Homo sapiens: one gene and its partners. The protein of the gene in region 1 interacts with the protein of each later gene in a pairwise test. Each region holds a gene or a part of one and is shown in the gene's direction. Other genes may lie near its edges. The genes, in order: MIER1, TMEM171 and EZR.

Region 1 (7,832 bases):
TAAATTTTTTTTTGTTAACCCAAGTATAAATATTAACTGTTTGCATTTGGATACAAAGAAGATATCTGTTGAATTAATCCAAAGTGCTGAAGAACTAAGGGTAATGGATGGAAACAACAAGGAGGTAGATTCTGGCATAATAAAAGAAAGAATGTTTTAAACATTTGAACTTTTTTTGAAAAGAGCAGCCTTTTTATGAGATATAGTGAGTCACTGGAGGGGTTTAAACATAGGCAGAAAGCCTGGTAGTAGAAGCATGATGAGAGATTACTATCTTGACAGGGTAGAGAATTGACTAAAAGATCTCTAAGGTCCCATCCAACACTAAAATTCTATAACTAGTGAATAGTTAATTTTTATATATTTAATACTGAAGAGGGTAAGTAAGCGTTTTGAGAAAGACTTTTCATTCCGTAAGGTGGCTCCTGAAAATTTTACAGTTAGGTGTATCACTAAAATAAAATAATAGTGGAAGGATACTGAATTCAGTGGTAATGTGTTACCTATGAATTGCAGTATTAGAGCTGTTTCTTTTTTATAATATCTGAACCTAAAAAACCCACTGAATCCACATTTATAAAAAGGGGAAGGGGAAAAATGTAGAGAGTTTTTTTCCCTCAATAATAATAATACCATTTAAAACTAGTAATATTGATACACAATATTAATAAACTTAAAGAGTTATTTAACAGTAAGATAGATACCCATTCAGAAATGTTTCAGACTTCCATTTTCCTGACAAGTTTAGGATTCATTCAGTAGGTTAATAGACTATGATCCCCTGCTCTTTATCATAGTTGGGATTTCTGTTGGTAGTTTAACTGAAGAATCAAAGATTCAGTGTACTTAAGCAAGTTATTTCTGTACCTTGTATTGTAACACTTTTAATTTTCCTTTGGTAGCCAAATTTCATAAATTAGCTTTCATATGTTAATGGAAAACCCTCCTTCATCTCCATGGTATAAAGCCTGAGTTTGTACCTCTAGGCCCCTAATTGTGTCTGTACCCACCTCAGGTCCATGTATATCCATTGTTCTTTGCCTTCAGCTCTTTTCATTAAGTGTATTGATTGAAAACTATTTGGATATGAACTGACACTTTTAAAAAGTCATTTTTATTTCAAGTCCAGAGGATTGACATAATTCAACAGGGTAACTATTAGAAACTATATACCTCTGCTAAAATATTTATTCCCCCAAGGAATCCTGAAAAACACTTTTATATAAGTTTTCTAAAAAATAAAATGAAAATACTGTACAGTACAGTTAATGGTAAAAATTGTTTGTAGATTTGGGAACCTTAAAGTTTTCCTTTCTCTTCTTTCCCTTGCTTTTCTTTCAGTAGAAAATGTGCATCAGATGTTTATGTTTAATTGGTTTACAGACTGTCTGTGGACTCTTTTCCTGTCAAATTACCAGGTAATGTCCTTTCACTTAGCAGCTACTTCATATATCTGTAAATGCAGTTTATTCATGCACAGATTATTATTGGACATAACAGTTTCAAATTAACATTGAATCTTTGGAAATAGGAAAATGCTTGATAGAGTCTAGAATTTTAAGGGAATATAAATAATTTAATAGCCTCCCCTATATTGCATTATAAGTTAAGTATTAACTTTAAGAAAAATTGTATATGTACACATTTATGCAATGTAGTATTGGTTCACATTATTTGGAAGGAATGAATAATTCTCGTATTTAAATGGTTGATTTTGGTAGCCACTTTTGAAACTGCATTAAGAGGAACCCTTGAAGATTAGGAAAAAAATCCCAGTCTTTTGAAATAAAGACTTTCAAACTGGTTTAGTAAAATATGTTAGTGACTGTTTTAATGTCACCTTTGTGTTATTCAGTATGTGCCTTAGTATAATGGAAGTGAAACATGTTAGTTACTTTGAAATCATTGGTTCTGGCCATCATCAGCATTGGCATCACGGCCAATTGGCAGCTGTAGGCCAATACATTAAAATAAACTTTCAAGTTACAGGCATTTCAGGCATTGCAAATAAGTAGGTTCTCCCTCCATGCTACTAAATAGATGATATCCATAAAACAGTCAATTTTCAGTATTTTAAATTTTGTCTAGTTGTGCAAAATTCAGTACATAACTGTGTTGCTACCGGCATGACAGAAGTGTGTGAGAAAACGCAAATGACATGAGGATGGCGGACTGCCTATCATAACCCCTTCCATTAATTTTTGCTCTGACCTCTCTAGAGATTTGGGGATATAGAATTTTACATTTCCTGTCGGGAATCTACTGATGGAGAAATATTTGTCAAGGCATAACCGCTTTCAAAGCACAGTTCTTGCCGCCGTTGCATCACAGCAACATCCGTTTTTCAGCAAATGCATTTCAAAAACGACCTACATGTAAAATATTACGTATTTTTCCTCTGCTGTGTCAATGCTGGATGTGACTCCTTTGGCACTGTTCCTTGACCTCTCTGATCCGTAGACAACCCCCTCCGCCTGGAGTGGCGGATCAGCTGGAGCCAGCGAAGCGCCCCGCGCGGTTGCCCACCTCCTCCCACACCCACCTTGACTCCGCCCCCTCCGCTCTTCCCGGGGAGGGCTGGCCGCGGGGCCGCGCGCGCGCCCCTGCTCCGGCGCGTGCTCGCTGGTCTTTTCCCTCCAGTCCAGCCCAGCCGGGGCGCCGCGAGGGGGCGGAGTGGGGTGTGGTGGGCGCGCTCGGGCGGCTCCTGCGCGTTCCCGCCGAGGCAGTGGCGGCGGGAGCGGCAGAGACGGCAGCGGCCGGAGTCCCGTTGCTGAGTCTCACATCCGGGTTCTGGCCGTGACCCAGCTGCGGCCGCCGCGGAGATGTGACCCGGCAGTACGGCAAATATGGCGGAGGTAAGGGAGCGAGCTCCCCCTCCCTGTCCCGGAGCCGGGCGCCCCCGGCCCTGGGCCGGGGAGGAGTGGAGTGGGCCTGGCCAGGAGAGGCCCGGCCCTGCTGGCGCCGCTGCCCACCTGTTGTCCGGAACAGGCCATTCTCTGGGCGGGAGCTTCGCCTGGAACTTAGTTGGGATGGGTCCGGGGGTAGGAGGAAGCGGAGGCGTACTTGGACTTCGGGGGCAGTTTGAAGGGTAGTGCAGCGTAGTAGTGCGGTGCGAGGGGGAGGGGGCGCCCGCCGGGGAAGGGGTGCCTGTGGCGCAACTTCGCCGGCCGGTGCTAGGGGCCAGGAGAGAAGCTGCTGCTTCCTCTTGCGAAGTTTTTTCCCTTCCTAACCGAGATGCTGTTGCGCCCTTCCGCGTCACCCCCATCCATTTGCGACTGACATCCAGTCTGTGTTAGTGGGGAAAACGTAAGGCTGACGGCCTTTGATTAACTCTGTAATTTTCATGATCGTGGTAAAATGAGAGTGGATAAATTAATCTGGCCAGCCGCAATCCAGCCCTCCAGGTTGGGGGGAGTCTGCCCATTTATCCAGACAGTTCCATCTCCCGCTCCCCAAGGTACAACCTCTGAGCTGCTTTTCCACCTCCCCCCACCACCTTCACTTTCCAGGCTTCCCCCCACCCCCTTTCCAAATCAAGGCTACCTATTCTTGTCTTCTTTCTCTTCTAATTTTTCTTTCATTGGAGAAGCTTTTTCTTGTTTCTTTTTGCTCGTTTTATAGTAAACAAGTTCCTAAAGCCCCTTTTTTTGATTTTACATATTTGGGCCGCAGTTGGCGGGCATACAACTGCTGTTGATTTATTAATCGGAACTAAGTATACGCTACTGGAACTTTAAATAACTGGAAGTTTAAAAAATGTTTAAAATATCTGAAGTTTTGTGGGATTTGTTTTGTTTCCGTTTTTCCTTACCCGTGGAAGAATTTCAGTATTCTTTATTCCTGAGAGTTCGAGATGATGTATTTGGATTTTTTTTATGACTCCTTTGAAATAAGCCACTGTAAATTTTGATTGATAAGGCATTTCTCTTGTTTGAATTGCCATTTTCATGGTTTCACAGGCACCCCAAAACAGATTTAGGAAGGAGGGTGAGATTTTGCTGTAGCAGACAGGACTGTTTGCTGCGAGTATTCTTTTTAAAACATTCAATATCTCTAATTTACAACTAAATTTAGATCTTAGATTTATTTTCATTTCTTTTGCTCTTGGTGGTTAAAGAATTGTATTTCCAGGCACATGAATTGGAGAACGTAGTACTTTCTGTTTCCCCAAAATGTGACTGCGTTTGTTCCAGTAGACTGAGAATCGGTACCTGGATTTTAGTCCTGGTGAGGTTCTTATTCTTAAGTGTTTGTTTCCTTCATGTTTAAGGAGTTGTGTGTAGCTGGATTTATACATTTTGTCAGTTAGTGTCTTCAGTGGACCCCTTTCAGTGAATATCGGGTAAGCAGCAATGTGCTACATAGGTAATGTGGTTTCTTCTTTCATGGTGTTGCTCAGGATGGTTTGAGCTTTGAGGTGTGTAGTCATATACTAAGGCAAGATATTACTGAAGGAAAATAGCTTATACAGAGAAATTTAAGTTAAAAAACTTAAATTTAAAATTTCTGTGTTTTTAAAAAATAAATTTTATTGCCGAGGGAACTAAAAAATCTAATATGTAAAAGAAATTATGTTAACTTTTTTGTTTTAAAAATTAAAGATGGTTGCGTTATTGTAAGATAAAGGAAAAAAATATTTTGATTCACTAATCATTTCCTAATATTTTCTAATGTATGTTTTAGTTTTCTTAAATATTTTATCAGTTGGAGAATGGAATGTTTTGTGGGAACGCATGGATTGTTCAACTGCAAGAAGGAAAGAACTGGAATTTTGTTTTTATTTGGTTTTTAGTGTTTATTTAATGACCTGGTATCTTTAAACAATTTATCTTCTATATTCTTCAGTTACTTGTAGATAGTTTCATGTATAGTGAATTGGGGAAGAGTTAGAGGAACTTTCGTGATCTGTGTCCTACAAAAAAATCTAAGACAGGTGAAGAAGTGAAAAGTACAATTGATTTATAGTTTTCCTGGCCTCAATACTTGAATAATTATGACGATTTTTGAGACCAGTGGTTTTAAACAATTAGACAAAGGAGAAATGCTTGGTTGGCTTTTACTTTGAGCTCTCAGTAGATTCATTCTTTATGAAGCCAATATAAAAGCATGTGATTAAATAATCCAGATGCTGAATTATTGTGCTTTTGATCAAATAAATCTGAGGATTTAAGGATAGCTTGTGAAGTAACAGTAAGTGCAAAGCAACAGTATATATCTATTTGTTAAATCTGAGGGGGAAAACAGGTTATTGAAGAAGTATGTCTCCAGAGAAAAATGTAGGTATTATGCTTCTGGGCTTTTAAAAAAAAAAATTGATGCTTCCTACAAGAGCATGACCCTGACCATGTTTTTCCAGAAAAATATTTAATTCTTGAATAGAAAGTGCTTTAGATGAGAATAGGATATACTAATTTTTTATATTTGATCTGATTATCTTAGTCCATAATAGGAAGTATATATTGGTTCTTCAGTTGTGATAACATTAAAGCCGTATTTAATGTACTTAGAATAAATAGCATATGCTCCCTTGCTTAATACTTTTTGGCAATATTTCTCATTGCTTATTATCCCTTAAAATTATTTACCAACCTTCTAAAAGGACGCTCTCCTAGTCACACTTGAAGGAAATTACAGGATAGTTGCAGTTTTACTAACTGCAAAAATAAGAGGAAAATGAGAGAAAAAATGAGAGGAAGAAATAGTTAATCCTTTGGGTTTTATAAGGAATGTACTAGGGACCTTTGGGAACGAACAATTTGTCTTGTATTTTAGCGTTTGTAAACACGTAAGGGACTTTCTTCTCAAGGAAAAAAATCCATGGACAATTCAAGACCTGTCTTTTCACCTAGGCCACATTTCTGTGATATAAAGAGAAAATTAATGGATTTGCTTCTTTCTATTTAAGTATTTTAGTACTTTCAAAGAGGGTATATAATCTGTTTATTCACTTTCACACCTATCCATTTCTCTTTAAAATGGACTCCTTGCTTAGTATTTTTTGAGTGTATTTGGATTTTTTTAACGAAGGATTATGTTAAATGTTACTTATGAAAACATTAATTTCTACTCTAAGCAAAATGTGTTTCACTGCAGTGAATTTAAGCTTCAAATAATTCTCGACACTAATAATGAATTTTTTTTCATGTTTATACTTCAGAGCTATTAAGATTTTAAAAGTAGTCAAGATCACCAGTGCGTGAGAGTCCTAAAAATCTTAATTCATTGGCAGTTAAGAGTTAGGGTACTTTAATAGGTGGGAAAGGTTTGGTGGGAGAAACAAGTGAATTACTTTAAGATAATTCTGGTAAGTGAGACTAACCAGTTTTCTAAATAATTCAGAAATAAAACACTGCCATTGAAGCTTAAGCATGTCTTTATGAAAAGTAATCAGCTATCTAGAAATGCCTGCCTGGCTTGATGTTCATTCAAAATTCATTGCAGTGATTAAATTGTTCAAGTACCAGTCATTGCTTGGGGCTTGTTCTGTTTGTCTTATTCTGTGGCTTAGAACAATAACTTATTATGTAGGTATGAAATTCATGAAGTAGCACCCCAAAAAATTGTTTTTGCAAATTGAGATTTTTTTAACAGTCCTAGATTTAAAAAAATAAATTTAAACATATCCCATGCATTTAGCTGCATACTCCTTAGTAGTGTTAGGTTTCTAGAGCAATTTATAATAAAAGTAAAGTTAGGTCTTGAAGAAATCTAAATCTTTTGATCATAGAGAAAATGAAAGTGAGCAGAGAGTTTACGTAGTTTGTCCTAGGTCGTGCAATTCATCTATGGCACAGTTTAGACTGGAACCCAGCCTTCTGTATTCCTAGATTCCTAGTGCTTATTTTCTTTTTCTTTCTTTCTTTTTTTTTTTTTTTTGAGACAGGGTCTCTCTCTGTTGCCCAGGCTGGAGTGCAGTGGCGCAAATCATAGCTCACTACAACCTCAAACTCCTGGGCTCAGGTGATCAATCCTTCCCTCAGAGCCTCTCAAGTAGCTGGGACTATAGGCATGTGCCATCATGCCCGGCTTTTTTTTTTTTTTGTGGAGACAGGGTCTCGATATGTTGATCAGACTGGTCTCGAGCTTCTGGCCTTAAGTGATCCTCCTGTCTTGTGCTGGGATTATAGGCGTGTGCCACTGTTCCCAGTCCTTATTTTCTATGATATCATTTTACTTCTGAATTATTAATACTGTAGTAAATTGCTAATTTTAATTTCAGTACATTCTTAACCTTTTTATACCCCAGAATTCCTGAGAGTAATAACAAAGTTAAGTAACTTAATTTTATTGGAGGAGAGGGATGGTGAGCCAGCCCTTGGCACGGTAACCATCTTTCACCCTAAAGTAGGACCCCTCTTTCCAGGCTTCTATCCCCATCTCCATTGCTGTGAGAATCTCTGACTTAGAGTCTACATAACTAAGTAGATGACGGCAATACTTAAAAGAAATGGTGGTAGAATTGTTTTGAGGGGAAAAATTTGTTCAGACGGTAATACTCATTGCAAATAAGCTTTTGATTGCCTGGAATAAAAAAATCTAGTAATTACTTCATGTTTTTACTATGTTGTTGTTAGGGTTTTTTTGGTGAAAATAATGGTAATGTTGTAGTTAGTTATTTCTTTACTCTCTCTCAAATTATAGTCTTCTGTTGTATGGGACATTTCCCACCATGTTCTAGAAAAATATAAAAGAGAATTATTTCAGCAAATCTGAGGCATTGAATATTCGTTACAACTATTAGCAATTTTATCAACTAAATCATACAAATATGTGGGTGAGGGTCAACTTGCTATAAAAGTTGCTAGAGTTTGTTTTTAATTTGTTTTAGCCCA
Region 2 (7,683 bases), on another chromosome or scaffold:
TAGAACCCTCCAAAGGACTAATTGTTACTCTTCCAGAGAGGGAGCCCAGCCTCCTCAATTTTGTAATGTCACTCACAGACCACAGGAAAGTATTCCTTCCGAATTCCTGAACTCCAAGCCTCCATATTCAATTGCCTACTCAGCTTCTCTACTCGGATGTCTAATGGACAAAATTAACATGTCCCCAAATGGACTCTGAAGCTCCTCCTCTCAAACTTGTCCCACTCTTAGGATTCCCCATCTTGCTCATGCCAGAACCATTCTTCCACTTGCTCAGATCCAAAACCTTGGAATCAAAACCCACATGTGGTTCATGGAAAATCCCATTGACTCTATCTTCAAGATATATCCAAAGTCTCATCCCTTTCATCACCTTCATACACAAGCTACAGACATAACTCCTGGGTTGTTACCACAGCCTCCTAACTGGCCTCTTCCCATCCATCCTGGCTCCTCCTTGGGCTATTCTTACTGCAACAGCCACCAATTTCTTTTTTAAAAGAAATCAGATCACATCACTGTCAAAGCTCATCACATCAGCTCAAAAACCATTCAAAGGCTTCCCACCTACTTAAAGGCCCTGCACAACCTGGTGCCCTTGGCCCTGCACATGCCTTTCCTCTCTGACCTCCTCTCCTACTCTCCCCCTTGCTCACCAACTGCAGCCACCCTGGCCTCTTGCTCTCCTTTGAATATGCTAATATGTGTGTTCCTACCTCAGGGCCTTTGCACCTGTGGTTACTTCTGCCTGAAGCACTCTTCCCTACTTCCCACAAAAAATCACGAACTATGCTTACAAATTCTTACTCTTCCCTACAAGAGGTGGCACCTAATCCCATTCCCCTTGACTTTGTGACTCAATTCTAAGGACCAGAATAAAGAGAAGTGATGGTATGGAAGTGCAGAGCCTCGTCAGAAAAGGCACCACAGCTTCCCCTTTGTTTGCTCTCCCTTGGATCACTCACGTGAGGGGAGGCTGGGTGGAGAAATCCACATAGTGAGGAACTGAGGCCTCCTGCCAATAGCCCTGTGAATGTGCCACCTTGGCAGCAGATCCTCCAGCCCCAGTCCAGCCTTCAGATGACCACAGCCCTGGCCAACTGCTAGACTGCAGCCTCTGAGAGGCTCAGCCAGAAGTACCCAGCTAAGCCACTTGCAGTTTCTGACCCTGATCAGAAACCCTGAGAATACATTTTTGCTGTTTCAAACTTCAAAGTTTTGGGGTAAGTTGTTATGCAATAATAGATCATTGATACACTTGCTTCCTCATTCCCTTCAAGTTTTTGCTGCAATCTCACCTTCTCAGAGATGCCTTCCTTAACTCCCCTATTTAAAATGGGGTGCTCCCCAGTCCCCATCTGTGATTTATTGTTCTCCCTGGCACTCAATCACTTTCTAATTCTCTGTATAACTTACATATTTTATTGCCTTTCTCCTCAATAAAATACAAGTTCCGTGTTTTATTGGTAGTTGGTAAATCTGTGCTGGCTAAATACATGAACACATGCCTCTGCTTTATGCTTCTACAGTCACTGAATTCGAGGTTTTTAATCTTGTTCTGATGCTGTTTTTCTAAGGATTCGGTCTGGCTTTTATCTTTTTCACTACCACACAGGCCAGGGAAGACCACTAGATAGTGACCAGGCCACGCAGCTTCTCTCCTAAGGCTAGGTGGGCTACAAAGATAAGTACCTCAAAGGCTGGTGGGTATGTCTTTCATACATAATCGATGATCAATTTCCAAGGAGTTTAATTTAGTCAAACAGGCTCTCATAGACACAAACAGTGAGAACAGCAGATATACCAAGTGGAGGCTAATCTGATTGTCCTTGGTGCCAGGATATTCAAGTCTGTCATGGGTGGTGAGCCTGCAGTCATGTGGCACCAGAGGGGCAGCTGTATCAACAGGCCCCTTGCAGGCCTGCACATGACATGGCCAGAGATTCAGTTTCAAATAAGGGGGAAGGGAAGAATGAGTAGGGAAAGGACAAGGAAACCCTTTTGCACAATGAAGAGTTGTTCACAGGCCTGTGTCAGAGGGGACAAATCCTATAATGAGGGCCTGAGTTCTTAGAAAGCCAGTGCCTGCTGTTGTACAATCCACTCTTGGGTATCTGCCCATTCGCTGGACATGCTTTGGTGCCCTTCCAGAAGGTGGTATACCTTGACACTTGGACCAGGAAGGATATCTCCACCCCAAACATAGATTACTGCAATGTCCTTGGGACACAGTGCCTGTATTGTTATAATAATCTAAACGTGCTTGGCATCACAAGGCCATGAGGGCGTTTTCTGGGTTCACAGCATGGTGTGTTCTCTGAGTGACAGGTGTGCTGCGGGAGAAACACTGAATGGTCAGCGCATCTGCATCTGGCTCAGGCCTTCTCTGCATGTCAACCAGCTGCAGAGGTTACTTTACCTCTGTCAGCCTGGACCTCAGTTTCCTCAACTGACAAATGACTGTTTTTCTCAGTCTCCTGTCCCCTGCTGCCTCCAACCTTTTCTGAACTGCTGGAGAGATGTAGCAAAGAACCACAAAGCAAGGGGTCGTGAGTGTTGGCATTGTTCATTTCGACAGTAATCAGGGCTGTTAGTTATGGCGGGGATTTACAGAGGTCGGGCACCCTGGCTATGAAAAAGTCCACCTTTGGCCACCCAGGCAAGTGCCCCACCAAATTCCAATGGCAAGAACTTGTCCGTTCTGCCTCCCTGGTGAACCCTAAAGCCCAGGTAACCCCCTCCCCTCTTTACCTCTCTGACTGGTTCTTTAAGTCTCTTCTCACCTCTGATGATTAGCTAAGCCTGCTTCATACTTTACCTTCAGTGAGCATGACCAGGAATCTCTTGTTGTATCAGGTAGGTAAAGTGCTTGCTTGCACATTGAAAAGTTTCATCCATTGGCCTTAACTCTAGATAGGGTTTCAGGCAAGGCAGACAGGAAGCTGAGAAGAGAAGGCAGGGCTGGGAAGTCCCCGTGGCTCAGGGCACCTCTGCGCTTGGGCAGAGAACCCTTGACTCACCTTCCACCGTGCCCTGACCCCTGGTGTGGAAACTAGCACAGTTGGATCCGTATCACGTGTCACGGGGCTGGTTACAAATAGCACAGGGATTGGCAAACTCATCCCGAAACTCCCGGTTCAAGGGCAGGGAAAGTTACCAGTTTAATTCCGGCAGATCATTAGTGGTGGAGAACCAGGAAGGGGGTTCTATCGCAAAGGAGGGCTGTGCGCAGACACGTGGGTGCGGGAGGGGCAGAGCTGGTCCGGCGCGGGGCTTGCCGCGTCTCGGCCTCAGTCTCGGAGCCAGGACCTCAGGCCTGAATGGCTGGGTGTGGAGGGCCCTTGTCTCACATTCTGTAGAGCGCACGTCGTCCCGTGACCTGGTGGCTCCATATTCGATGGGGAGCTCGCAGCGAGTCGCTTCCCTCTGTAACCCCACTCCAGGTCTCCAGAGCAGTAGGAGGGCCACAGGGCTGCTGGGTGTAGTCGCCCCGGACCTCGCGGTGGCCAAGGCCAAGGCGGCCGGGGCACGGTACCCTGTTCGGCCTGGGCCGCAACCACGAAGGAGGCGGTGGAGGCGGGGGCCGGCGCTTCCTCCGCGCCCCCCACGCCGCCGCTCTCTCGCGCCCCTATAGAACTGGGCCTCAGGCCTCGAGGGGGAGCGGGCCTCGGCGGGCGGGGCGCACAGTTCCGCCAGCCGGCGGGGGCATCTCAACTCGCCGGCCCCGCCAGGTGTGCGGGCCAGGCAGCCGTGGAAGGTGCCCATTTCTCCCAGATTCCTCGCGCGCACGGCCACGAGCGCGGAGGCTGCCAAACCCGCCAGCCCTGGGTTCCGAAGCCGCCCCTGGCTCTCCATTCCCTCGCGGGCGCGCCCCGGGCCCCCAGTGGCGGCCAGCTCCCACCGGTCGCTCCTGCACTGCCCTGCCCTGCCCTCCCCGGGCCGCCGCGCCCGCGCAGCACCGCCTCCTTCTCTAAATACTGCCGGGTCCGCCCTCCGCACCAGGACGCGCGGTGGGTAGGGTGCAGGGCGGCCGGCGCAGCCGAGGCCGCGTGCGGAGGCGGACGCCGCGCCCAGCCAGTGCCCACAGCAGCGCGGTCAGCCAGGCGCCGGACCCAGCTTCAGGTAAGCTGCCCCGGCCCGCGCGCCTGCGCCGGCGGCGGCGGGTCGGGCGCTGAGCTGTGCGGCCAGGCTGGGCGCGGGGAGCCGCGGCAGCGCGGAGGCGCTGGGTATCCGAGCCCAACCTGCGTCCCTGCGAGCCCCTCCGGCTGTTGCTTGCGCTCGGGCTCCCTAAAAGCCGCAAACCGATTTCGCACAGAAGGCATTTGCCTCTCGTTTCGTTCCCCAAACGCACCATAGCTTTGGACGTGGAGAGGTGCTGTGAATTTTGGAAATGTCTTTTGGAAAACCAATAGGAGTGTTGGAGAGGGGAGTTTGGCTTTGGGGAGTTTAAGTGTAGGGTGGTGTTTGGAAAAGGTTTCATTGCGAGTGAATGTGGGTGTCTTTGTATCCGTTTGTGAGTGCATCTGTGGGAGAAGGAGAGAGAGAGAGTATTTCCACACTATTATGGATCAGAGGTGAACACTCAGCCAGGTGCTCCGTCCACTAGTCCACGGACAAGAAACTACAGATTCAGTTTTGGGCTTCTATTTACTGGTGTTTGGGAATTTGCCTTAAGACAGTTGAAGCCTTGTGACTCACTGCAAAGTTGACTATACTGGGAATAAATGAATTCCTGATAGGACTTTGCAGCCGAGAATCACCCTTCTCTTTCTTGTCTCCGAAACCGCAAAAGAGATTGCATGATTCAGGAAAAAAATTAAAACAACAACAATAACAAAAAACCAATATATATAGGTTTCAGGACTCTCCATCGTTTCATTCCACTGAGAGTTTTGGAATGTACTCCCTGTAGGATAAATGAGGACTACTGTATACTCAATATGAAATTCTTATTCACTGCAGGATGTTACTGACTTAATAAAAAATGGGAAGATTAAAAAATTAGTGCAATGCTTTGTCTCAGCTTAACTGCATCTGTATATCAAGTTTTTCCAAGTTTGAAATGAAAGCTTTTTTCCCTCCTATATTTCCTTTTTTTCTCCAACTTCCTTCTGATTCTATCATACTTTTTCCTGGAAAAGTTTTTCCCAGTGTAAGATTGCCTGTTTGCTTTCTTTACCTAAACTGACCTTCCCTCAGTGTGATTTTGGTTTGTCAAGATCATCTTGGGCTTAGGGCCTCAGTCTTGAGTTCCTTCATGGGACCATGGATGTGAGCGGCACAAAATATTTTAAAAGTTTTCTTTCCTTGGGCAGGTGAAAATAGTCTTCACGATTTTGGATTGTCTTTGCAATTGCAGGACCTGACTTACGGGGTCCTGGTAAAATATCCCATTCATTGGAGTAAAATAAGATAACGAGATAATTAGGTCAGCTCTGTGTAAGCTAGACAACTCTTTAACAACCACTTGGCATATTTAATATATTATACCCCTGAAGTACAGGGCTTGGGTGATTTTCTGGAAGGTGCTTTCTCACTTGATTCCACTTATACTATTCTTTCAAAGCCAAGTTCCCCCCTTCCACCCATTTTGTGCTTTATAACTAGCAGTTTTATTGGCTGCTTGTTTTTTAACTGAGTCTCAACCTCTTTGTGGAAGTAGGTGACACCATGGAGGAGGGTGAGTGAGAGGCCACACCAGCCTTTGGGTACCTGTCCACTCTGAAAATTGAGCTCCTGTTGACCTGCTGTGCAACACTTTCCAGGGTCATCCCAGATCCAAGCAACTGGGTCACCAGTCTGTGCTTGTTGAGAACCCAAGAACCATTTTGTTTTGTTTTGTTTTGTTTTTGGCAGGGTCTCACTCTGTTGCCCAGGCTGGAGAGTAGTGGCGTGATCTTGGCTCACTGCAACCTCCAGCTCCTGGGCTCAAGCAATCCTCCCACCTCAGCCTACCAAGTAGCTGGGACCACAGGCACCATGCCTGGCTAAAGTTTGTATTTTTAGCAGAGATGGGGTTTTGCTATGTCACCCAGGCTGGTCTCGAACTCCTGAGCTCAAGCAATCTGCCTGCCTCTGCCTCCCAAAGTGCTGGGATTACAGGCGCAAGCCACCACGCCTGGCCTCAAGAACCACATTTTGATAGAATCAACTTAAAAGTCCACCAAACCCACTGTGTTCCTGAACAGACTTCTTATTCTATTGAAATTGCTGAAATTGGGTCTTTTGTAGATGTAGCCTTAGAATAAAACATGAAATGGAAAGCTGCTGTAGTCTAAAACAGGAAATGGAAAGTTAGTTACTGAACTGACTTGAAAATGCTGAGAGCAGCTATGATGAAAAGTGGGGCATTTGCAATCAGAAAGAATCCCTGTGGTTCTTCCCTCATTCACCAGTGCTTTTTTCCCCAGGGAAATGAGTTTGTAAGACTCAGAAAAGGAAATGCCACACCCAGCTACTTTTGTTCTTTCAGTTTTTAAAAAAGATACCCTTAGATGTGTAGTAATTTAATTTCCTGTTTTGAATATCTTGTAAAATTACATATTTAGGAGTTTCTGAATGCTAGTTTATCTGACTCATAAACCAACTCATTGTTCTACAGCTTATCAGTTGTATAAAGTTCTACCCCCAAGGCCTCATTGTGGTGTGATTTCAGAAATGATCAGCAAAAAACCAGGGTGGTTCTGGAACACCTGTGCCCACGTTAATTTGGTGTTTGGTTGTGTTTGCAGAGCTGCTGAAATCTTGGAGGGAAGAAAACACATCCCACCCTGCCTCCGGGAAGGGGCCTCTCCTGGACATGTCTCCTGCAGCTGCTGCTGAGCCAGATGGGGACCAGCAGGACAGACACGTCAGCAAACTCATCTTCTGCTTCTTTGTCTTCGGCGCCGTCTTGTTGTGTGTGGGAGTCCTGCTCTCCATCTTTGGGTTCCAGGCATGCCAATATAAGCCCCTCCCAGACTGCCCCATGGTGCTCAAGGTGGCGGGGCCTGCATGTGCCGTGGTTGGGCTTGGGGCTGTGATCCTGGCCCGCTCCCGGGCGCAACTTCAGCTCCGTGCAGGGCTGCAGAGAGGTCAGCAGATGGACCCCGACCGAGCCTTCATCTGTGGAGAGAGCCGCCAGTTTGCCCAGTGCCTTATCTTTGGGTTTCTGTTCTTGACAAGCGGCATGCTCATCAGCGTCCTGGGCATTTGGGTCCCTGGATGTGGCTCCAACTGGGCGCAGGAACCGCTAAACGAGACAGACACTGGCGACTCAGAGCCCCGGATGTGTGGGTTCCTTTCTCTGCAGATCATGGGGCCCTTGATTGTGCTTGTGGGATTGTGTTTCTTCGTGGTTGCCCATGTTAAGAAGAGAAACACGCTGAATGCTGGCCAGGATGCCTCTGAGAGAGAAGAGGGACAGATCCAGATTATGGAGCCTGTCCAGGTCACTGTAGGTGGGTTGCTGTTATTTGCGTTCTTGCTTCTATCACAGTGGCTTTGCAGCAGGGTTTCACCAGCTGCTCTTGGTTCTCGTCTGGATTCTCTTTCTCAATTCTTCCATCTCTCACACATGTGTGTGCACACGCACACACCCCCATCATGTGTACATACACAATGGTGCTGCTGTGGGAAGCCCCGTAGGAACCTTGTATACATCTTTTCCCCCCCAGCAACTCTTTCCTACTTTGCAAAGCATTG
Region 3 (7,832 bases), on another chromosome or scaffold:
CTCCAGAGTAGAACCCCTCTCACTGCGTGGATGAGTGAGCCTTAGTTGTCTCAGTTGCTGCAGCTTCTCATTTCTAAGTGATCGTACCTGAACATCTATGAAAGGAAGAAATGAAGATTTAGAGAAATAATTCACTTTTTAAAATTGGAAGATTTTTTTAAATCAAGTATTTATTAGTGATATTACTACTTACTTATTAAATACTTTTTTCCCCAATAACAGCTGCTTCAAATACAGCGTTGTTTTTTTTTTTTTTCTTTGAGACTGAATCTCACTCTGTTGCCCCGGCTGGAGTGCAATGGTGCAATCTCAGCTCACTGCAACCTCTGTCTCACAGGTTCAAGCAATTCTCCTGCATCAGCTCCCCGAATAGTTGGGATTACAGGCACATGCTACCACGCCCTGCTAATTTTTGTATTTTTAATAGAGACAGGGTTTCGCCATGTTTGCCAGGCTAGTCTCGAACTCCTGAACTCAAGTGATCCACCCGTCTTGGCCTCCCAAAGTGCTGGGATTACAAGTGTGAGCCACCACGCTCAGCTTGCAGCCTTCCCCCATCCCTTTTGGGTGAGTGGGAAGAGGGGGAAGAACAGGTCAGTCCTGGGCATTTAATAAACAGACTTCTAGAGCTTTAGGGAGCCTCTGGCCTCCCTGCACCCTTCAGATGAAGAAACAGGCCCAGATCAGGAGTTAATTTGGAATTTTAGGATTTACTTTAAGCAAATGCTCTGTATACCTGAGTTGTCATTTCTAATGTATTCAACCCTCTTTGGCATTAAATATGATAGAAGCCATGTATTTGAAGGATGGTAGCATTTTTTAAAGTTTAACATTATATATCATGGGATTTTAAATTAGACATCTATGTATATGTAAATAGTCGAACTTGTCTGGGACTCGGTTTAGATGATGTTCAACAAATGTCCACAGCAAGTTCGACTATCACTGCTTTTCTGTTTACAAGACAGTCGTGAGACTAAGCAGCTCAGGACTCCTGTAATGCACAACAGAGGCTTGAAAATGTGAAATCTTTGCTGTGACCTAGGGTCGGGATTCTACCTTTGCTGTATCAGAATGTCCCATTTCTGGAGGTCTATAAGATGCAGGTTCCTCTGGGCACCCCTGTGCATTGACACCCTTCCGTCCCAGAAGTCTGCCTTGCCTGTTTTCCTGCCTTTCCTAGGATTTCTTTGTCCCTGTTCCTAGTAAGTCAGACCCCTGGGCCAGCTGGCTGAGAGGCAGAGGCAGGCAGCCAGAGGAGGCTCAGGTGTGGCACTGGATGCTTTAGTCTTCTGCATGAGCACACCTGACCGGCAGCGATGCACCCACCGCACTGTTCCCTGGGGGGCTGTGGGCTCCCATGGTTCTGTGTGTGCTGGCCATAACCCGCCCTGCTGAGTTTCATGCAGGAGAGCATCCTGGAGTACAAAGGAGTAGGAGTGAGATTTTCTAAGATTTGAAGGTAGAACCCTGAATCTGCTCAAATTTATATTAAAAATAAGTCGTTCATGGCTTTGAGATAATAGCCTCAGTTAGTAACAAGTTATTTGAGTGCAAAAAAAGATGTTGCCCAGTGGTTGGACTGAGCAGATGTCCTGGTTTCCTGGGGACTCTGCTAGACCATGTGATGAACGACAGCCAAAAGCTGTTGCCCTTTTGAGTGAGTTTCTCATGAGTGTTGAGCCTCTCTCTCTCTCACGCAGGTGGTAAAGACTATCGGCCTCCGGGAAGTGTGGTACTTTGGCCTCCACTATGTGGATAATAAAGGATTTCCTACCTGGCTGAAGCTGGATAAGAAGGCAAGTCAGGATTAACTATTTACAGGCTGTGGATTGGGTGTTGGTCTGCTTCATCGATAAGGAAACTGGAGCAACTCACCCTGTCTTTTGTTTTCTGTTCCTTTTTGTTTGTGTAAAAGTTTTTACAGACAAAAAGGTTGCAGGTTTCCAGTAAATGGAGATATCGATTGGAAATCAGATCTGGCATTTCTCCATAGTGCTCACTCATTGGAGCATATGATGGTTAATTGCATAGCTTTTAGTTGACCTTAGTTTTTTCAATGAGATTGTTAATCTTATAAACTGTGAATCATCCACCATCTTGTAAGAACCTGTTATTGCTTTGTTTGAACCTGTGACAGATTATCTTCCAACTTTAAAGAGTGGATAATTCCATTAACCAACCAAAAAGAAAAGTAGTAAGATAAACATTTTCTTCAAACTCTGAAAATTATCCTTTTTTTTTTTTTTGAAACCCCCACTGTCCTCCCAAGTCACAGCAACAAGTTAAAAAGATGATGGGAGGTGGGGAAGAGTGGAGGAGCAGGAGGAATTCTTAACAGTAAGTTTCGGGGTCCAGGGCCCGATTGGCATGTGGCCCCATTCCAGGTCACTGGGGTCATTTCCAAATTTGAGTTCTCCAGGATTGATAGCATCATCCCATGAGGACTGGGGCTTAGTGAGGCAGTAGCTTTGATTTCCAGCTGAGCACAAGAGTGTGATAGTACTTGTTTGTTTTTTGTTGTTGTTGTTTTGAGATGGAGTCTTGCTCTGTCGCCCAGGCTGGGGTGCAGTGGCACGATCTTGGCTCACTGCAACCTCCACCTCCTGGGTTCAAGTGATTCTCCTGCCTCAGCCTCCCAAGTAGCTGGGACTACAGCTGCATGCCATCATGCCCGGCTAATTTTTTTGTATTTTTAGTAGAGATGGGGTTTCACCATGTTGGTCAGGCTAGTCTCGAACTCCTGACCTCGTGGTCCGCCCACCTCAGCCTCCCAAAGTGCTGGGATTACAGTCGTGAGCCACCATGCCTGGCCTGTTTTTTTGTTTTTGTTTGTTTGTTGTTGTTTTTTAAGAAGAGACAGGGTCTTGCTCTGTCACCCAGGCTGGAGTGCAGTGGCGCCATCATAGCTCACTGCAGTCTCGAACTCCTGAGCTCCAGGGTTCCTCCTGCTCAGCTTCTTGAGTAACTGGGACTATAAGCATGCATCACCATCCCCAGCTAACTTTTTTTTAAAAAATGTTGTAGAGATGGGATCTCTTCTACGTTGCCCAGGCTGGTCTTAAACTCCTGGGCTCAAGTGATCCTCCTGCCTTGGCCTCCCAAAGCACTGGGATTATAGGCATGAGCCACCATGTCTGGCCTGTGGTAGCACTTTTGACTAACCTTTTTTTGTCTGGAGTGCTAAAAAGATGACTTTAAGAATAAATATCTCCTGAAAACTGGCTTGAGGGCCCCATTGAGTCTTGGTTAGAAGCCTGTGTTGGGGACAGTGGGCCTTCGTCTTCCGGATTTGTGTGGAGAGTGTGGCTTGTTTCGTGCAGGTGTCTGCCCAGGAGGTCAGGAAGGAGAATCCCCTCCAGTTCAAGTTCCGGGCCAAGTTCTACCCTGAAGATGTGGCTGAGGAGCTCATCCAGGACATCACCCAGAAACTTTTCTTCCTCCAAGTGAAGGAAGGAATCCTTAGCGATGAGATCTACTGCCCCCCTGAGACTGCCGTGCTCTTGGGGTCCTACGCTGTGCAGGCCAAGTTTGGGGACTACAACAAAGAAGTGCACAAGTCTGGGTACCTCAGCTCTGAGCGGCTGATCCCTCAAAGGTGAGCACAGGATGACCCGGCCTGGGCAGGAGCAGTCATGCCGTCCTCGGCAGGGAGAAGTGATTGCCTTAGAAGCACAGTTTAAAAACACAAGGACTTCGCCAGTGTCAAGTGCTCCTTCATGCTAGTCATTAAGTCACTGACCAGCGACCTGAAACATAGCCAGGGAAGGCGAGCTGCCATTCCTCATGGAAACTAAAGCGTGGCCGTGTCCTGTGGGACATGGCATAGCAAACTTCTCGACCTGACTGCTCAGCTCCTCCTGGGGTATGATAGGTTGCCCCTGTGAAATCTGTTTTTATTTAGTAATGGTCACAAAAATTACCCCATTTGGAAGAAGAGGCCACTTAAAATACCTCTTAGTTTTTCCAGCAGAACTGAGTTCTTGTTCAAAATGCTAAGTCTTCCAGATTAACTGTCATAAATAGAAATGCTGCACATCAGGAAATAGAAACCAAAGCTCTTTGGGATTGATTGATTTGAATGGAAAGTAAGGGTTTGAATGTGGGTGGTAAGTGGGCCTCCTTCCTTGCCTGTCACATTCCTTAAGGATGACAGTGCTGTTTCCTTTTGCATTCCAGAGTGATGGACCAGCACAAACTTACCAGGGACCAGTGGGAGGACCGGATCCAGGTGTGGCATGCGGAACACCGTGGGATGCTCAAGTGAGTGCTGTGCCCTGCTGTTGGGATCTTGCCATCTCCGTGCGCTCCAGCATGTCTTTTCCTGTGACTCTAGTTAGTGCTTTAAAGGGCTCTGTGTCAGGCCTTGTGAAGACCTTGAGGGAACCGAGTTAAAAGTGGGGTTTTCTTAGGGAAGAGGTTTTTTTTAAACAAAGCCAGGTGTCTTGCCTGGGGAAAGAAGCAGTTTAGCTCAAGCCTTCAGGTTCTAAAAGCTTACACCCTCCCTTTGTAGAAAGTGTTGTGTCTAAACTTCATCTTAGTCAGAGGGGCATTGTTCACCTGCAATCAGCATTATTCTGTCAAAGAGATGCTGGTTTGCTCATTATATGAAGGTACTTGTCTTACAAAGTGTATATAAATGAAAAAGGATCCCAAGTGAGAAATGCTGATGTCAGAGAACCTGGACGTGGGGCTGTTAATGTAAGACATGGCCGAGCCACCTGATTCTGGGTGTTCTCGTCCTAGAGCCTTGTCTCTGGCCTAGTCTTGCGAGTCTGCATTATTTCAGCCTCTGAAGTTTGTTTGAGGTTTGAGCCTCAGATTTTGTGCTTCAGGGTTTCCTGTCTGGCCCAAACATCCTTTATGGAAGGAAAACAACTCAAAGCCTATGAGGAGGGTTGTGGGAAGACATGTGTGGGCAAGAGAAAAAGGAGGATTGTGCTGAGTGATAAAACTTAAAAACCTGTTAGAGAAACCAGTGTGAATCAGTTCTTCTTCAAAGTGTGGGGTTTGGTGGTGAGGCTCCAGGGCAGCACGGACCCCACCCCAGGCATAGCTTCTGGGCTGTATGGGTCCCCTCCTCACCGGTCGGCTGCCCGGCCCCTGCCTGCCTGCACGCAGCACACAGCATTGAGCCCATCCTACACAAGGCGCCTTAATTTAAAAATACTGGAAAGGTTTTACTGTTCTAGATATTGAGTGCTACCAGTGACTCTGCCTGTTTCACTCTCCCCAATTAGAGATAATGCTATGTTGGAATACCTGAAGATTGCTCAGGACCTGGAAATGTATGGAATCAACTATTTCGAGATAAAAAACAAGAAAGGAACAGACCTTTGGCTTGGAGTTGATGCCCTTGGACTGAATATTTATGAGAAAGATGATAAGTGAGTTGAAGTTCACAGTTATCTTCAGTAGGTAGGGTGGTGGGCCTGGAAACAATGGCAAAATGGCAAATTTGTGGGTTATTTTTGAAGTATTTATTTAGCAACTTACTATCCCAAAGTAGGAAACTTTTTAAAGGGCTTTTGGACTGCTGTGGCCCTCTCAAAGGGTGGTCCAGAGGTGTGGGTTATCCTCTCTCATGGTGGGCGGGGCCGATAGTGGGCTCAGTCCTGGTAGAGGAAGGCAGAATAGAGCAGAGGCTGCCTCTCCTCCCCGCTGCCTCTGAGATTCCACCCCAGCTGCCTGCAGGTACCAGCACATCCATCCATAGCTACTTCGCAGGCAGCCCAGCCAGTGCTCGACTCCTGGCTCGAGGTTTGTGCTAATCCAACCAAGAATATTGATGGTGTGATGAGAGACTTGAAAAGCTGTAAACAATAGCCTGTACGTGTAGACACTTGAGCTAAATGCTGGGAGTCTGCAGGAGATATCTTAATTGCCTCGCATTAGTTACGTTGTTTGTTGAGTGAGGGCCTGTAAGCAAGCTGGGTAGAGCAGCAGAGCCAGGCCTCTCCACAGGGACAGGCAGTTCCGCTTTCACATACAGGGCATTTGCCTTCTTTCTGCTGAGGATAAACAGGGAAAGTCATCCTAGTTCATGAGGGCAAGTTTCCCATGGTGAGTCTGCGACATCAGCATAATCCTAGATTCTGGATTGATCTGATCAGAAGCTACCTGAATTTAAGAGGCAGAAGGAAACTACCTCTGGAAAGAGAAGGGAGAGGCTCCTGACTGCCTCCTGACTACCGTCTCTGCCCTGATTGTCCACAGTCAGCCTGATTGCTCTGCAGGGCTCCCCGAAACAAATCATCTGATGGCCACCAGGTTCAGGGGCCTGGCAGAGAAGGTGCCAGGGCAAGAATGCTCCTGGGGTCTTTTTGCCAAGCCCTGCCTTTTGGCCTGGGTTCCTGCTTTCCACGTAAAGAGCAGAGTGGCCCAGAGTTCCTGGATGTACCGGTTTCCTTCCCAGCCTCATGCTGTTCCTTGAAATGACAGCTCTCCCCATTTCCCACTTGAGGCTCACCCATCTCATCTGTTCTCAGATATTTTTGTTCTCAGCATCCCCACATCTCAGGTTCCCCCAAAACCCTCTCTGGAGTTCTCAAAGGGAGTGGTGCTGCTTTCCACAAATGACCTGCATGAGTCCATCTCCATTTGCAACCACGCGGATTCCTGCCAGACCCCAGGGCACAGATCTATTTCACTTGGGCAAGTCAGGGACCTGTGCCAGCTGTGCCCAACCTCCTCTCACCTCCGGGGCCCACGTGGTGATACTGCACAGGGAGGGAGGCAGGCGCTGTCACAGGAGCTCCTCAGAGAACCTGGAAATGAGATATTGAGGACTCTCGGTTCGCTCCTACTCCAAGTGTGCTGGATGCAGCATTGGTAAAGAAGCACGGAAAAGCCAGGCACAGCGGCTCACACCTGGAATCCCAGCACTCTGGGAGGCCGAGGCAGGCGAATCCCTTGAGCTCAGGAGTCTTGCCCAGCCTGGGGAACATGGCGAAACCCCGTCTCTACCAAAATTTAAAAAATTAGCTGGCTATGGTGGTGCACGCCTGTGGTCTCAGTCAGGTGGCTGAGGTGGGAGGATCACTTGAGCCTGGGAGGCAGAGGTTGTAGTAAGCCAAGATTGCGCCACTGCACTCTAGCCTGGGTGACAGAGCGAGACCGTGTCTCAAAAAAAATTTTAAAGAAGTGGGGAAAGTGGGTACTTGGAACCAGGACACCATCTTTCCGGGAGACCCTAGAGCTGAAGCCGTGGCTATTAAGACAGCCATGCCAAGGAGCAGTGCACAAAGTCCTCGTGGGAACGTATGTGGGAAACTGCCTCTGCCTTGGAAATCTCTTCAATGACCAGATTTTGTAACGTGGCCAGGCCAGGGCTGTCCAAACAGGTTTTTCAACCTGCAGGAAAACAGCCATGGGCAGGAACTTGCTGATGTCAGCTTGTAACTGCCCCAGCCCACGTAAGTGTCCATTTCTTCCAAGTAAAAACGTGAGCTGTGTGCCCTATTTAGTGCTGTTTTTGCGCTCTGCTCCCCCTCCCCCACCATTGAGCGATGAACGTGGCAACTCTCTCAGATGGTTCTTTCCCCACAGAGCATGCTGGGGTGTTGGGCAGGCTCACTTTCTGCCTCTCTTCTCCCCATTCCTGAAGGCACACCCCTCTCTTCATGAAAAAAGCATTTATGTAGATATTCAGTCATTTAATAGGCCCAAATTCTTTCCCTTTTGAACAAATATTGACAACTTGGTAGCAGCATAAGCAGGAGACTGTCCTGAAGTCTGAGGAGTGCTGAGAACTCGCCAGCTGTTGCGCTGTTACCTCTCTCGGTAGAACTAGGAGAATTAGATATGCCTGAAACATTGTTCAGGTGAGAAAG

The links.
Region 2: the proteins of MIER1 (region 1) and TMEM171 interact in binary tests that used the Homo sapiens proteins (3 or more experiments, as listed by UniProt).
Region 3: the proteins of MIER1 (region 1) and EZR interact in binary tests that used the Homo sapiens proteins (3 or more experiments, as listed by UniProt).

Annotation. Positions count from the first base shown.
Region 1 is NC_000001.11:66,927,546-66,935,377, forward strand, and holds part of MIER1 (mesoderm induction early response protein 1), read left to right. Parts: intron 1-1,341; exon of another isoform or gene 1,342-1,344; coding exon of another isoform or gene 1,345-1,418; intron 1,419-2,710; exon of another isoform or gene 2,711-2,846; coding exon of another isoform or gene 2,847-2,855; intron 2,856-7,832. UniProt on the Homo sapiens protein: Transcriptional repressor regulating the expression of a number of genes including SP1 target genes. Probably functions through recruitment of HDAC1 a histone deacetylase involved in chromatin silencing.
Region 2 is NC_000005.10:73,116,575-73,124,257, forward strand, and holds the start of TMEM171 (transmembrane protein 171), read left to right. Parts: upstream 1-4,000; 5' UTR 4,001-4,122; intron 4,123-6,731; 5' UTR 6,732-6,799; coding exon 6,800-7,439; intron 7,440-7,683. Other genes in the region: uncharacterized protein LOC124901001, read right to left, coding at 3,154-3,855.
Region 3 is NC_000006.12:158,781,075-158,788,906, reverse strand, and holds part of EZR (ezrin), read left to right. Parts: intron 1-1,703; coding exon 1,704-1,799; intron 1,800-3,323; coding exon 3,324-3,598; intron 3,599-4,179; coding exon 4,180-4,263; intron 4,264-5,240; coding exon 5,241-5,387; intron 5,388-7,832. UniProt on the Homo sapiens protein: Probably involved in connections of major cytoskeletal structures to the plasma membrane. In epithelial cells, required for the formation of microvilli and membrane ruffles on the apical pole. Along with PLEKHG6, required for normal macropinocytosis.